Homo sapiens: one gene and its partner. The protein of the gene in region 1 interacts with the protein of each later gene in a pairwise test. Each region holds a gene or a part of one and is shown in the gene's direction. Other genes may lie near its edges.

Region 1 (6,342 bases):
GCACGTTGGGAGGCTGAGGTGGATGGGTCCCTTTGGTCCAGGAGTTTGAGACCAGACTGGACAACATAGGGAGACCCTGTCTCTACAAAAAAATTTAAAAATTAGCCAAGCATGGTGGCACATGCCTGTTGTTCCAGCTACTCAGGAGGCTGAGGTGGGAGGATGGCTTGAACCCAGGAGGTCAAGGCTACAGAGAGCTCTGATGGTGCCACTGCACTCCAATCTGAGTGACAGAGTGAGACCCTGTCTAAAAAATAATAAAAGAGGTGTCAAGAAGCCAGGCACAGTGATGTGTGCCTGTAGTCCCAGCTTCTCAGGAGGCTGAGGCAGGAGAATGGCATGAACCCGGGAGGCAGAGCTTGCAGTGAGCCGAGATCGTGCCACTGCACTCCAGCCTGGGCGACAGAGTGAGACTCCATCTCAAAAAATAAATAAATAAAATAAAATAAAATAGACATCTATCCAAACCTGCACAAATTGTATTTTAGGTGACACTTCAGGAGCATTTCCTTAGAGATGCTTACTAGCTTCTCTTGTATTCAACATTGTGATAGAGACCTTAGTTCAATATGACAAGAAAAACAAAAGGTATAGAGATTGACAAGAGGAAAAATCTAATAGAATTATCTACACAGAAAATCTAAGAGAATCTACAGTCAAATCACTAGAACTGATTGAGTTCCACAAGGTTACCAGACACAAAAGCAGTAGTGTTCCTGAATACCAACAATGAACAATGAGAAACATAGGATTTTTTTGGCTGGGCACGGGGGCTCACAGCTGTACTCCCAGCACTTTGGGAGGCCGAGGTGGGTGGACCACTTGAGGCCAGGAGTTCCAGACCAGCCTGGCCAACATGGTGAAACACCAGCTCTACTAAAAATACAAAAATTAACCAGGCATGGAGGTGCATGCCTGTAATCCCAGCTACTCGAGAGGCTGAGGCATGAAAATCGCTAGAACCCAGGAGGCAGAGGTTGCCATGAGCCGAGATGGAGCCACTGCACTCCAGCCTGGGTGACAGAGCGAGACTGTCTCAAAAAAAAAAAAATGCTCTTTAAAAGAAATCACTTAAAACAGCAACACAAACTACAAGGTGTCTAAGAATAAACCTACTGAAAGATGTGTAAGACACTACATAGAGATTATAAGACTTTAGTAATGGACATCAAAGGAAAATGTAAATAGAGAAACATTCCACATTCACAAATATGAAAACTTATCATAGAGATGTCAATTCAATTCTGAATTAATCTATAAATTAAATAAAATTTCAACCTAACATGGGTTTTTCATGGCACTTTTACAAGGTGATTCTAAAATTCTTATCAAAGAAGAAAAAATACTAACAAGGATGGACTCACCCAACAAGATATCAGATTTACCATAAAGCTTTGGTACTAGCTCAGGGATTGACAAGAAGACTAACAAAATTGTTACAGATTGAATGTTTGTGTCTCCCACTCTGCAAAATCATACGTTGAGGCCCTAACCCCCACTGTACTGTACTTGAAGATGGGCCTCTAAGGAGGTAGTTAAGGTTAAATGAGGTCAGAACATTGGGGCCCTGATCAAATAAGTGTCTTTTGTTTGTTTGTTTTGAGACAGAGTTTTGCTCTTGTCACCCAGGCTAGAGTGCAGTGGCACAATCTCAGCTCACTGCAACTTCCACCTCCTGGTTCAAGCATTCTCCTGCCTCAGCCTCCTGAGTAGCTAGGATTACAGACATGCGCCACTAAGCCCGGCTAATTTTGTAATTTTGACTAGAGACAGCGTTTTGCCATGTTGGCCTAGCTGGTCTTGAACTCCTGACCTCAGGTGATCTGCCTGCCTTGGCCTCCCAAAGTGCTGTGATTACAGGTGTGAGCCACCACACCCAGCCAGTATCTTTATAAGAGAGCAGAGAATTCTCTCTCCCGCTTGCTCTCTCTCTACACACACACACATGCACACACATACACACGCACGCATCAAAGAAAGGCCATGTGAAAACGTAGTGAGAAGACAGCCATCTGCAAGCCAGGAAGAGAGCCCTCACCAGAAACTGAATTTCCTGGCACCTTGCTCATGGACTTCAGCCTCCAAAACTGCGAGAAAGTTAATGTCTGTTGTTTAAGCCACCCAGTCTGGGATATTTTATTATGGCATCCTGAGTAGACTAATACAGGGATAGAAAAGAGAACTCAGAAATAGATCTACAAACATATGGCAACTTGGTATATGACGGAGGTAGCATTATAGAACAGTTGAATAGAATATTCAATAAATGTCCCTGGGATTTGTGGACAGAGAGGAAGGGAGGGAGAGAGACAGACTATGTATCCCATTAAAATTAAAACTTCAACAGAAGACATCATAGGCCAGGTACAGTGGCTCACACCTATAATCCCGACACTTTGGGAGGCCAAGGCAGGAGGATCACTTGAGTCCAGGAGTCCAGGACTTGGAGACCAGCCTGGGCAACACAGGGAAGCCCTGCCTCTACAAAAACAATTTTTTTTTTTTTTTTTTTGAGATGGAGTTTTGCTCTTGTTGCCCAGGCTGGAGTGCAATGGCGCAATCTCGGCTCACCGCAACCTCTGCCTCCCGGGTTCAAGTGATTCTCCTGCCTCAGCCTCTTGAGTAGCTGGGATTACAGGCATGCACCCCCACGCCCAGCTAATTTTGTATTTTTAGTAGAGACGGGGTTTCTCCATGTTGGTCAGGCTGGTCTCGAACTCCCAACCTCAGGTGATCCGCCCGCCTCAGCCTCCCAAAGTGCTGGGATTACAGGCGTGAGCCACTGCGCCCAGCTTACAAAAACAATTTTTTTAATTGCACAGTGGCAGGTGCCTATAGTCCCAGCTGAGGCTGAGGTGGGGAGGATCACTTGAGCCCAGGAGTTCAAGACTGCAGTGAGTGGTAGAAACACCCTGTGTCTCATTTCGTTCATTCATATAGTAGGCTACATCAGTTAAAATTAATAAATCTATATTTCTCAATGTGGATAAATCTCAAAAGTCAAAAAGCAAGCATTGAAAGGTAGGATACTTTTTATTTAAATATAAAAAGTGTATTTTGAAATACACAAAATAGTATACATTGTTTATAAATATATAATATGTAGAAAAGCACAAATTCAGACAGGAAAACTGCACATCAGCTTCCAAAAGTTGGAGGAGGGAGGCATGAGGGACAGGAAAAGGGAAGGAAGCGAGGGGGCTGCAGCTCCATCCGTGAAGTTGGACTTCTTGTTTTCAAAGAGGCCTAAAGGGGACGTTGGCAAGACGTTAACATCTGTTAAATGTCAGTGGCTCCTGGCCTGGTGGAGGTGGGAGTCGGGGATAGGATGTTCTATTATTTTCTGGGCATTTGAAATGTATCAAAATTCAAAACATTAAAAAGGAAAAGGCCTGAAACAAAGTGGCCAGGAAAGGACAACAGCAGGAAATGGCACTATAGAAACCAAGGGGGATGGCAGGTGTCTTCCAGCGCTGCAGGATCAGCTGCTTCTCACCCCATCCTCTAGGCCCAGGAGAAATGCGGGAGGAAGCCAGCCTGCTATGGCCATGGTTTGGCCAGCTCTGAGAAGTTTGGCAATGCCTTGTCACTAGCAGGAGGGAAATGCGTATATGGTATGGGGAGGGCGAGACTGAAGTCACAGGGGATGGGCAGGAGGGTTGAGGAAGGAAGAGGTGGTGCTGCCTTGCAAAGAGGGGAAGGGGTCTAGGAAGTCAGGCCGAGGGCAGGGGGTTGCAGAAGAAGCTGCCAGGCTCCCAGTGAGATGCTAGAGTCCATCAGAGCCAGTGCAGCCCACCCAGACTCCAGAGAGGGGAGCTGGTCCTGGGAGCTGAAAGGCGGTGGTGGGGTCCTTAAGAGGGACATCATGACGTTTTATAGTTGTGTATTTATTTAAATGTGTATTGGCTGGGCGCTGTGGCCCACACCTGTAATCGTAGCACTTTGGGAGGCCGAGGAAGGCAGATCGCTTGAGTCCAGGAGTTCGAGACCAGCCTGGATAACATGGTGAAACCCCGTCTCTACTAAAAATACACACAAAAAAAAAATTAGGCAGGCTTGGTGGCACACACCTGTAGTCGCAGCTGCTCAGGAGGCAGAGGTGGGAGAATCACCTGAGCCTGAGGAGGTCGAGGCTGCAGTGAGCAGAAATTGTGCCACTGCACTCCAGCCTGCATAATCGGAGTAAGACCCTGTCTCAAAAAGTAGAAAATAAAAATAATAAATGAGTATTAGTGGGAGGAGACATAGGCAGAAACCAAATGTGTGATTTCACAGAGAGATGGTAGAAGAGGGGGCTGGTGACTTCACAGGCTTCAGCACGAGGGCATTTTAGCATCCTGGACTTTTTAGGTTTCAATTTAAAAAGCCCAGCTGGAGGGCCACAGATATGTCCACCTAGCCCGGTGTGTGTTTATCTTTATGCATACATTTTAAAATCAGGTGGAAATTTGCAAATCATTCCTTTGGAGGAAGCTAGCCAGGGTGCAGTGTTTGTTGATGGGGACCCTGGCTTTGGCTGAGGCTGACTAACCTCTCCACCTTCAGGACCTCTTCAACGACCTGATTGCTTGTGCGTTCCTTGTGGGAGCCGTGGTCTTTGCTGTGAGAAGTCGGCGATCCATGAATCTCCACTACTTACTTGCTGTGGTGAGTCTTTCCATGCTGGGCCTTGCATTTGCTCTGAATTCACTTCTTTTGGAGGATGGGTGTTGTCCTCTGTTTAAGGAAAGGGCTTCTTTATTTTCCACAAAAGTCTTGGGATCAAAGCAAAGTTTAAAAGTTAAGTAGGCCGGGTGCAGTGGTTCATGCCTATAATCCCAGCACTTTGGGAGGCCGAGGCGGGCGGATCACCTGAGGTCAGGAGTTTGAGACCAGCCTGGCCAACATGGTGAAATACAAAAACACAAAATTTACAAAATTTAGTAGAAAATGTATTTTCTACTAAAAATACAAAAATTAGCCAGGCATGGTGGCACATGCCTGTAATCCCAGCAACTTGGGAGGCTGAGGCAGGAGAATCGCTTAAATCCAGGAGGCAGAGGTTGCAGCGAGCAGAGATTGCAGCACTGCACTCCACCCCGGACGACGGAGCGAGACTTCGTCTCAAAGGAAAAAAAAAAAAAGTAAAGTAGACAGATGTTTCCAACGGAACCACCATTTAAATAAAGATGATGTCCGGGGAGCCAGCCCAAGTTCCTTCCTGTAGCTGCCGACCCCAGAGCAAACAGTCCCACTCTGGCTGGGTTTCAAGAGAGAAAAGAAACAGAGATGAGATGGCAGGACGGGGGAGTGGAGAAGGCAAAGGCTGAGGGAGTAGGCACGCTCCTAGCCTCTCAGAGATGGTTGACATTTGAGGGGACATGGGGGATGTGTGAAACAGCACCCCCTGATGAATGAGAAACCAGGAGGGAAACTCACCACCTTTGGAATGAAAAGCAAAAGTCATGAGGACCGTTTTGTTTTCCAGATCCTTATTGGTGCGGCTGGAGTTTTTGCTTTTATCGATGTGTGTCTTCAAAGAAACCACTTCAGAGGCAAGAAGGCCAAAAAGCATATGCTGGTTCCTCCTCCAGGAAAGGAAAAAGGACCCCAGCAGGGCAAGGGACCAGAACCCGCCAAGCCACCAGAACCTGGCAAGCCACCAGGGCCAGCAAAGGGAAAGAAATGACTTGGAGGAGGCTCCTGGTGTCTGAAACGGCAGTGTATTTTACAGCAATATGTTTCCACTCTCTTCCTTGTCTTCTTTCTGGAATGGTTTTCTTTTCCATTTTCATTACCACCTTTGCTTGGAAAAGAATGGATTAATGGATTCTAAAAGCCTAAAGTTGATGTAAGCATTATTTTGTTCATTCAGCAAAAGTTACTGACTGTCAGGGTGCAGAGGGCGAGGCCAGGGCAGGGCCTGGGAGCCAAGGCTCCTGAAGTGCTCCCAGGCTACTGGGCACCAAGGGCCTGGGGGACCAGAAGTGTAGGTGTTGCCGGCTAGTGGCCCCAACCAACTGGCAGGGGGCAGGGGGCCAGGGCATGGGGGGCAGAGGAAGACAAGAAACCAGAAAACAAAAGGATCATTTTGTTCACACTGATTATTTTAATTTTACTTTTTTAAAAAAGCATCCAAGCAATTGTTATGAGAAAAATAAGTTTGTTGGCCTTCCTTGCAGTTTAGTTTTTAGGTTGGTTTTGTTTTGTTTTGTTTTGTTTTGTTTTTGTTTTTTGGTGAGACAGAGTTTCACTCTTGTTACCCAGGCTGGAGTGCAACGGTGTGATCTCGGCTCACTGCAACCTCTACCTCCCAGGTTCAAGCAATTCTCCTGCCTCAGCCTCCTTGAGTAGCTGGTATTA
Region 2 (7,029 bases), on another chromosome or scaffold:
AGTACTACTTTATTTTGTTGCTGAAATTGTTCCTCCATTGGCCATTGGGAGCTCTTCCACTTGGCTCCTGTATCCCTTTGACATATCCCCCTCTATATGTTTTGCTTTGTTTTGTTTTGTTGAGCACTTTCTTTCTATTCCAGACTCATCTGGTATGTTTCTGCCCCAGTCCTAGAATTAGCCATTTCCCAAGGAGCCCTGGCTCCTTTTATTGGAGAATGGCCCAGAAAACAAGATCTGGGCTCTAGGTATGCTCAGTGCTTCTCAGTGTCCTTGCTTCTAGGCCTTCGCAGTGGACAGAGTAAGAGACATACGTATATATGCACAGATCTAGAAGTATTTCCATATATAACCACCTGTATCTACGTTCAGCTAAACATAACTGATGTCCAACTCTTATCCATGACTGCATGGATTGTTCTAGCTTGGCAGTCCCCAACCTTTTTGGCACCAGGGACCGGTTTCATGGAAGACAATTTTTCCACAGACCTGGGGGTGGGGATGGTTTTGGGATGATTCAAGTGCATTACATTTATTGTGCACTTTATTTCTGTTACTATTACATTGTAATATATAATGGAATGATCATACAACTCACCATAATGTAGAATCAGTGGGAGCCCTGAGCTTGTTTTCCTACAACTAGACAGTCCCGTCTGGGGGTGATGGGAGACAGTGACAGATCATCAGGCATTAGATTCTCATAAGGAGCACACAGCCTAGATCCCTCACATGCACAGTTCACAATAGGGTTCGTGTTTCTATGAGAATCTAATGCAGCCGCTGATCTGATAGGAGGTGGAACTCAGACGGTAATGTGAGTGATGGGGAGCGGCTGTAAATATAAAAGAAACTTCGCTTGCTCACCTGCTGCTCACCTCCTGCTGTGCGGCCTGGTTCCTAACAGGCCATGGACTGGTACTGGTCTGTGGCCTGGGGGTTGGGGACCTGTGTTCTAGCTTCCTTCTCTTGCTTGTCTGTAACCTCCCACTCCACCTGTGACAAACCCGACTCCCACCATTCACCATACATTTACTTAATTGTTCCATTTAGCATACATGTATGGTGGTTTTAGAATTGCTCCCCCGATCCCCTGTGGGAAACAACTTATCAGCTAGAGTACAGTGTGTACGTGCAGTTCCTTTTGCCTTCAGTCTTACAGGCTCCACTCGTTTTCAAAGTTACTTAGGTCAGCACCCTATTCCCCCACTACCCTTTCAGTGAAGTTGTTTAATACATTTGGATTCAGAATGTCACATTCTGCATTCCATCCTGGAACACCCTGACTTCATGCGTGTGTATGTTGGTGTGTTTTAAAAACTGGGTCTCACTATGTTGCCCAAGCTGGTCGCAAACTGCCGGGCTCAAGCAATCCTCCTGCCTTGGCCTCTCACAGTTCTGGGATTATGGGTGTGAGCCACTGTGATGGCCTTCCTATGTCTTTTTAAAAATATTTGCATACATTAAACTTTACTCTTTGTGCTGTCAAGATTTTTGGGTTTTGACAAATGCTTAATATTTTGTATTCCTAATTATAGTGTCATACAGGATAGTTTCCCCTTCTTCAGGGATTATTTTTAACTTCTTTCAGATTTCACCTCAGCATTCCTGTTGGCCTTCACCAAAATATATCTGTAAGCTGAGAATTTACCACCTCCACAGCTACCACCCTGGTGCAAATGTGTCTTTTGACTGTTAAAGTAGCCTCTTCACTGGTCTCCTTGCTTTCAGTCTTGTCCCCTACAGTCTGTTGTCAACAAAGCAGCCAGAGGGATCATTTTGAAATGAGTGAGACCATGTGATTTCTTTGCTAAGAACCTTCCAGTAGTTCCCTTTTCACTCAGAGACTGGCCAGAGTCCTCATAATGGCCTGCAGCTTGCTTACTTGACTGTTCTTGATCATGATGCTTATTCCTGCCTCAGGGACTTGGCCCTTGCCGTCCCTCCATCCTGGGATACTCTGGCAGATGTTTAAATGACTTCTTCCTTTGCTTTCTTCTTTCCTCTGTTGAAATGTCACCTTTGCAGAGAGGCCCTTCCCCGACCACCTCATATTAAATAGTACTATCCTCTTCTTCCTTCCTGTATGTATTGTAATACTCACCCCTGACATTGCATGTGTATGTGTGTATGTGAGTACTTCTAACTGAATGGAAACTCCGTGGCAGGGATTAGACCAGTGCCTGGCACATAGTAGATTCACAATAAATATTTGTCCAATGAATTAATGTCTTACGTCACCAGTGTCTGGCATTCAGGGGTGAACTTCGCAGTGTCCAGTAACCTCATGAAATTATTTGCCACGTTCAGTAATAATTAATTATGCACCTTTTGTTAAATTCTGATGGGGTATGAAAGTCCCCTGGTGTATAAAAACCTCTACCTGTAAGCAAGTCTGGAGCAGGACAGGGCTAGAGACCAGGATAGCAGCTCTGCCCTGACTCATCAGGAGAGTCTAGGGAAACCTCGTGGCCTCTCAGCTCCTCCTTGTCGTTAAATGATGACTCTGTTGGTTGAGGCATCTGCTCTTGCTTTCGAGGTGGGAAACAGAGGCATAGGCTTAGTCATTTACCAAATATTTATGAGTCAGGACCTGGAATAAACTCAAGATGTACCCAAGATCCTTGCTGTTCAAGAGATTACAATGGATCAAATAGAAAACAGTAGATTCCAGTGTAATATTTCTCAAACAATAAGAAATAACATTCTAAAATTTGATCCAGCACATGCATGCTCAGATGTAGATGGATGTTGAAAAAGCTTCAGGATATAATACCGGCCCTTAATGTGATACTCTTTGATATTTTCTATTGTTATTTACCTACTTAAATAAAGTGCTGGCTAATAAAAAATGCTGGTTGCAGCCCCCTAAATGGTTTTCCTGGCTCACTAATGGGCCACAGCCTGCAGTTTGAAAACGATTGACATACTGGGTAAGCGCCCTGACTCTGGGGAAGCCAGCCCCTTTGAATCTTGCCTTTGCCACTTATCAGCCAGGTTATCCCTGGGTAGGTCATATAACCTCTCCAAGCCTTGGTTTCCTCATCCTCATTAGTAATACCACCTCCCAGTGTGGTGGTGAAGTATGCGAGTTGCTGCCTGTAAAGTGCTGTTCGCAACACCTGGCCGTTCATTTGCCGACTGCTGCTGCTGCTGGAACAATGGCCAGGGAACAAAACCTGTCACAGCCAGTCGAAGGGGTGTCTCCTAGTTGAGATCTGCAGGATGAATAGGACTTGTTTGACTTTGGTCATCAGGAAAGGAAAGCCCAGAAATACTGGCAGGAGGGCTGGGAAGTAAAGCACAGAGGTGCAGAGAGAACTAGATGAGAGCCGTACGGCGCACAGTGTGTGTAGAGCAGTTTATGTTTCCAGAACCTTTTCACAACCACCCTCCTGTTACACCTGTGCTGTCCAGTAGGGAACCTTTGGCCACATGTGGCTTTTTATTGTTAATTAGTTAAATAAAATGAAAAATTCAGTTTCTCTGTAACATTTAAGTTTTCAACAGCCACATGTGGCTGGTGGCTACCATTTGGAGAACACAAATACAGAACATTTCCATCACTGCAGAAAGCTTTATTGGACAGTATGACATTATACCCTAACAAAAGTCTTGTGAAGGAAGTAGGTAGGGCATAGATTTTTCTTAGATACTTTATTGTTTCATAACATTCCAAAAAATTAAAACTCATGACTTATTCACCTTAACAGCAACTATTTATGTTTCTGTAGCATCTTTTGATCTTTAGCCCATGAAATCAGCTTATAGATGGTTCCAATCATAGTGTTTATACAATTGCTTATTTTTTTCAATTACTGTTACTTTGCAAAGACTTTCCACTGACCTGATACACAATGTTTATATTTGCCGGGTTAGTGAAGAGGGATTATGCCATGATGTACCATCACTGGGTTAACTGCTTCCTGATTGTTGGACGCCTGGGTTGCTTCCTGTTTTTCAGTATTATGAATAGTGCTGCCATGAACTTTTTTGTACCTGAAGGCTTTTTCTTCTTTTGAATTGTTTCCTTACTATAAATTCTAGGAAGTAAGTTATTCAGTCAAAGGATATAATCACTTTTATGGCTCTTGTTATATTTTGTCTAATTGCCATTTTTTAAAAAAAGGCCTAAATGTATTATAGGTATCATTGTTGCTTGGCTCATGAGAACATCCCGTCTCCAGAGGTCAAGAGATTATTAGCCCAAAGTGTAGCTACTTGCAGATAGAGCAGGGGCTTTTGTCCTCTGCTTCCCAACTCTTGCCCTATCTTTCTATTGTACCACTCCAAATATTTCTTATCACAATGTTGCTGTTAGTAGTAACACTAGTAAATCTGAGTATTTATAAGCTCATAAAGCTTGTTACAGCCTTAAGCAAAAAGCTTGGGGCCAAGGGCGTTTTAAAAAATGCACACTTTATGAGGTGCAACTGCGGAGAAATGAGGACGCGTTCTTAAGCTTTGGTATTCACATGGTGGTGGTGCTGGTAGAGGCTGTTACATTTCTTCCAGTGAAGCTGTTCTTGCAGCCGCCTTGGAATTCACTTCAGGGCCAGTTTATGAGCCACCCCAAGTAATCTGCTTGGAGTCTGAGCATCATACCTTGTATTTGACCAAAAATGGTATTCCTGAGCTCAGTGCCACCTGATTCACTGCACTTGGAACCAGATGATGTTGGGCTCTTTCCAGAAGTCAAATCCTTCCTGGGAGGATGAAGATCTGCCAGCTCTGAGGATTCTGGCTGGGAAGAAAAAGAGCCTCAAGCTTTGAAGGCCATTCCCATGGTAGACAGAGCTGATGTGAAAAGTGGCCATCCTGTTGCCCCAGGCACATGACCTTCTGAAGTGACCAGGCTGAAAGGGAAGCAATACTCGTGTGTAAGTCCGGCTCTGTTTACTTACGAAGGTTGTTTTTATTATTCTTCGGTTACTTCATGTTGGAAACATGGTGCAAAGCAGTGAAGCAGCAGAGCCAAGGTGGCGGCAGGCCTTTTTTTTTTTTTGAGATGGAGTTTCACTCTTGTTGCCCAGGCTGGAGTGCAGTGGCGTGATCTCGGCCCACTGCAACCTCCGTCTCCCGAGTTCAAGCGATTCTCTTGCCTCAGCCTCCCAAGTAGCTGGGATTACAGGCACCTGCCACCATGTCCGGCTAATTTTTTTGTATTTTTATTAGAGACGGGGTTTCTCCATGTTGGTCAGGCTGGTCTCAAACTCCTGACCTCAGGTGATCTGCCCACCTCAGCCTCCCAAAGTGCTGGGATTACAGGCGTGAGCCACTGCGCCCTGTGAGGCAGGTCTTTAGGATTGTCTCTACCCCAGGGCTTCCCCACAGAAATATAATACAGACTATGTATAATTTTACATTTTCCAGTAGCCACATTTAAAAAGCAAAAAGGGATGATGCCTGTAATCTCAACACTTTGGGAGGCTGAGGCAGGAGGATCACTTGAGCATAAGAGTTTGAGGCTACAGTGAGTTATGTTTGTGCCATTGTACTCCAGCCTGGGTGACAGAGTGAGACCCTGTCTCTAAATAAATAAATAAATAAATGGGTAAAAAGAAACAGATTTTTAAAAAATTGTGACAAAATATATGTAACAAATTTACCATTTTAACCATTGTTAAGTTTACAATTCAGTGGTATTTGCAGTGTTGTATAACCGTCATCACTGTCTATTTCTAGAACTTTTTCATCTTTGCAAACTGAAACTCTGTACCCAGTAAACAATATCTCCCCATTTCCCTTCCCTCCAGCCCTTGGTAACCTCAATTCTACTTTCTGTCTCTGAATTTGCCTATTCCAGGTACCTCATATAAGGGGACTCATACAATATTTGTCCTTTTGTGTCTAGCTTATTTCATATATATTTATTCAAAGCTCATAATGTTTTCAAGGTTCATTCATGTTGTAGCATGTATCAGAATTTCATTTCCTTTATGGCTGAGTAATACTCCATTGTATGTATATACTACGTTTTGCTTATCCATTCATCTGTTTATGGACTCTTAGTTGTTTCCATCTTTTGGCTATTGTGAATAATGCTGCTATGAACATTAGTATCTTGAGTCCTTGCTTTCAATTCAATTTTTTTTTTTTTTTAAACAGGATCTCTCACCCCGTCACTCAGGGTGGCGCAATCACGACTCATTGGCTCACTGCAGCCTAGACCTCCCAGCTGGAGCAATTCTCCTGCCTCAGCCTTCTGAGTAGCTGGGACTACAGGTGTGTACCACCATGTCCGGCTAATTTTTAAATTTTTTATAGCAACAGGGTCCCACTCTGTTGCCCAGGCTGGTTTCAAACTCCTGGGTTCAAGTGATGCTTCTGCCTTGGCCTGTCAAAGTGTTGGGCTTACACTTTGGGCGTAACCCACCATGCCCAGCCAATTATTTTTTACGTGTATTTTTTGGTGGCAGGGTGGGGTGGGGGCAGGGTCGGGTGGGGGCAGGGTCTCGCTCTGTCACCCAGGCTGGAGTGCAGTGGCGTGATCGTGGCTCACTGCCTTAAGCTCCTGGGCTCAAGTGATCCTCCCACCTCAGCCTCTCGAGTAGCTGGGAATACAGGAGTGAGCCACCACTCCTGCCTAATTTATTATTTTTTTTGTAGAGATGGGGTCTCGCTGTGTTGTCCAGGCTGGTCTCAAACTCCTGAGCTCAAGTGATCTGCCCACCGTGGCCTCCCAAAGTGCTGAGATTATAGGCGTGAGCCACTGCAATCGTTTCAGCATGTAATCAATATGAAAACATTATGAATGAGATAGATTACATTCTTATTTTCATACTAGGTCTTTGAAAATGGGTGTGTAATTAGCATCTCAATTCAAACTAGCTGCGTTTCAAGTCTTAATAGTCATGTGTGGCTCATGGCCACCATATTGGATAGCTCAGACTTAGCAAAATATTGCATTGTGGCACAGATCTCTGGAAACACAAAGGGTTTTAGATTCAAGTGGGCCTGGTTCCAAAGTAAATTTGCCCCTTTATCATTGGGATGGGCAGAAGAAAGCCACTGATGGGTGCTGTGGTA

The links. Proteins that work in one complex are often made in the same cells at the same time.
Region 2: the proteins of CMTM2 (region 1) and MANBAL interact in binary tests that used the Homo sapiens proteins (3 or more experiments, as listed by UniProt).

What each region holds. Positions count from the first base shown.
Region 1 is NC_000016.10:66,582,452-66,588,793, forward strand, and holds the end of CMTM2 (CKLF-like MARVEL transmembrane domain-containing protein 2), read left to right. Parts: intron 1-4,545; coding exon 4,546-4,647; intron 4,648-5,467; coding exon 5,468-5,668; 3' UTR 5,669-5,824; downstream 5,825-6,342.
Region 2 is NC_000020.11:37,292,655-37,299,683, forward strand, and holds part of MANBAL (protein MANBAL), read left to right. Parts: intron 1-4,641; exon of another isoform or gene 4,642-4,880; intron 4,881-6,108; exon of another isoform or gene 6,109-6,225; intron 6,226-7,029.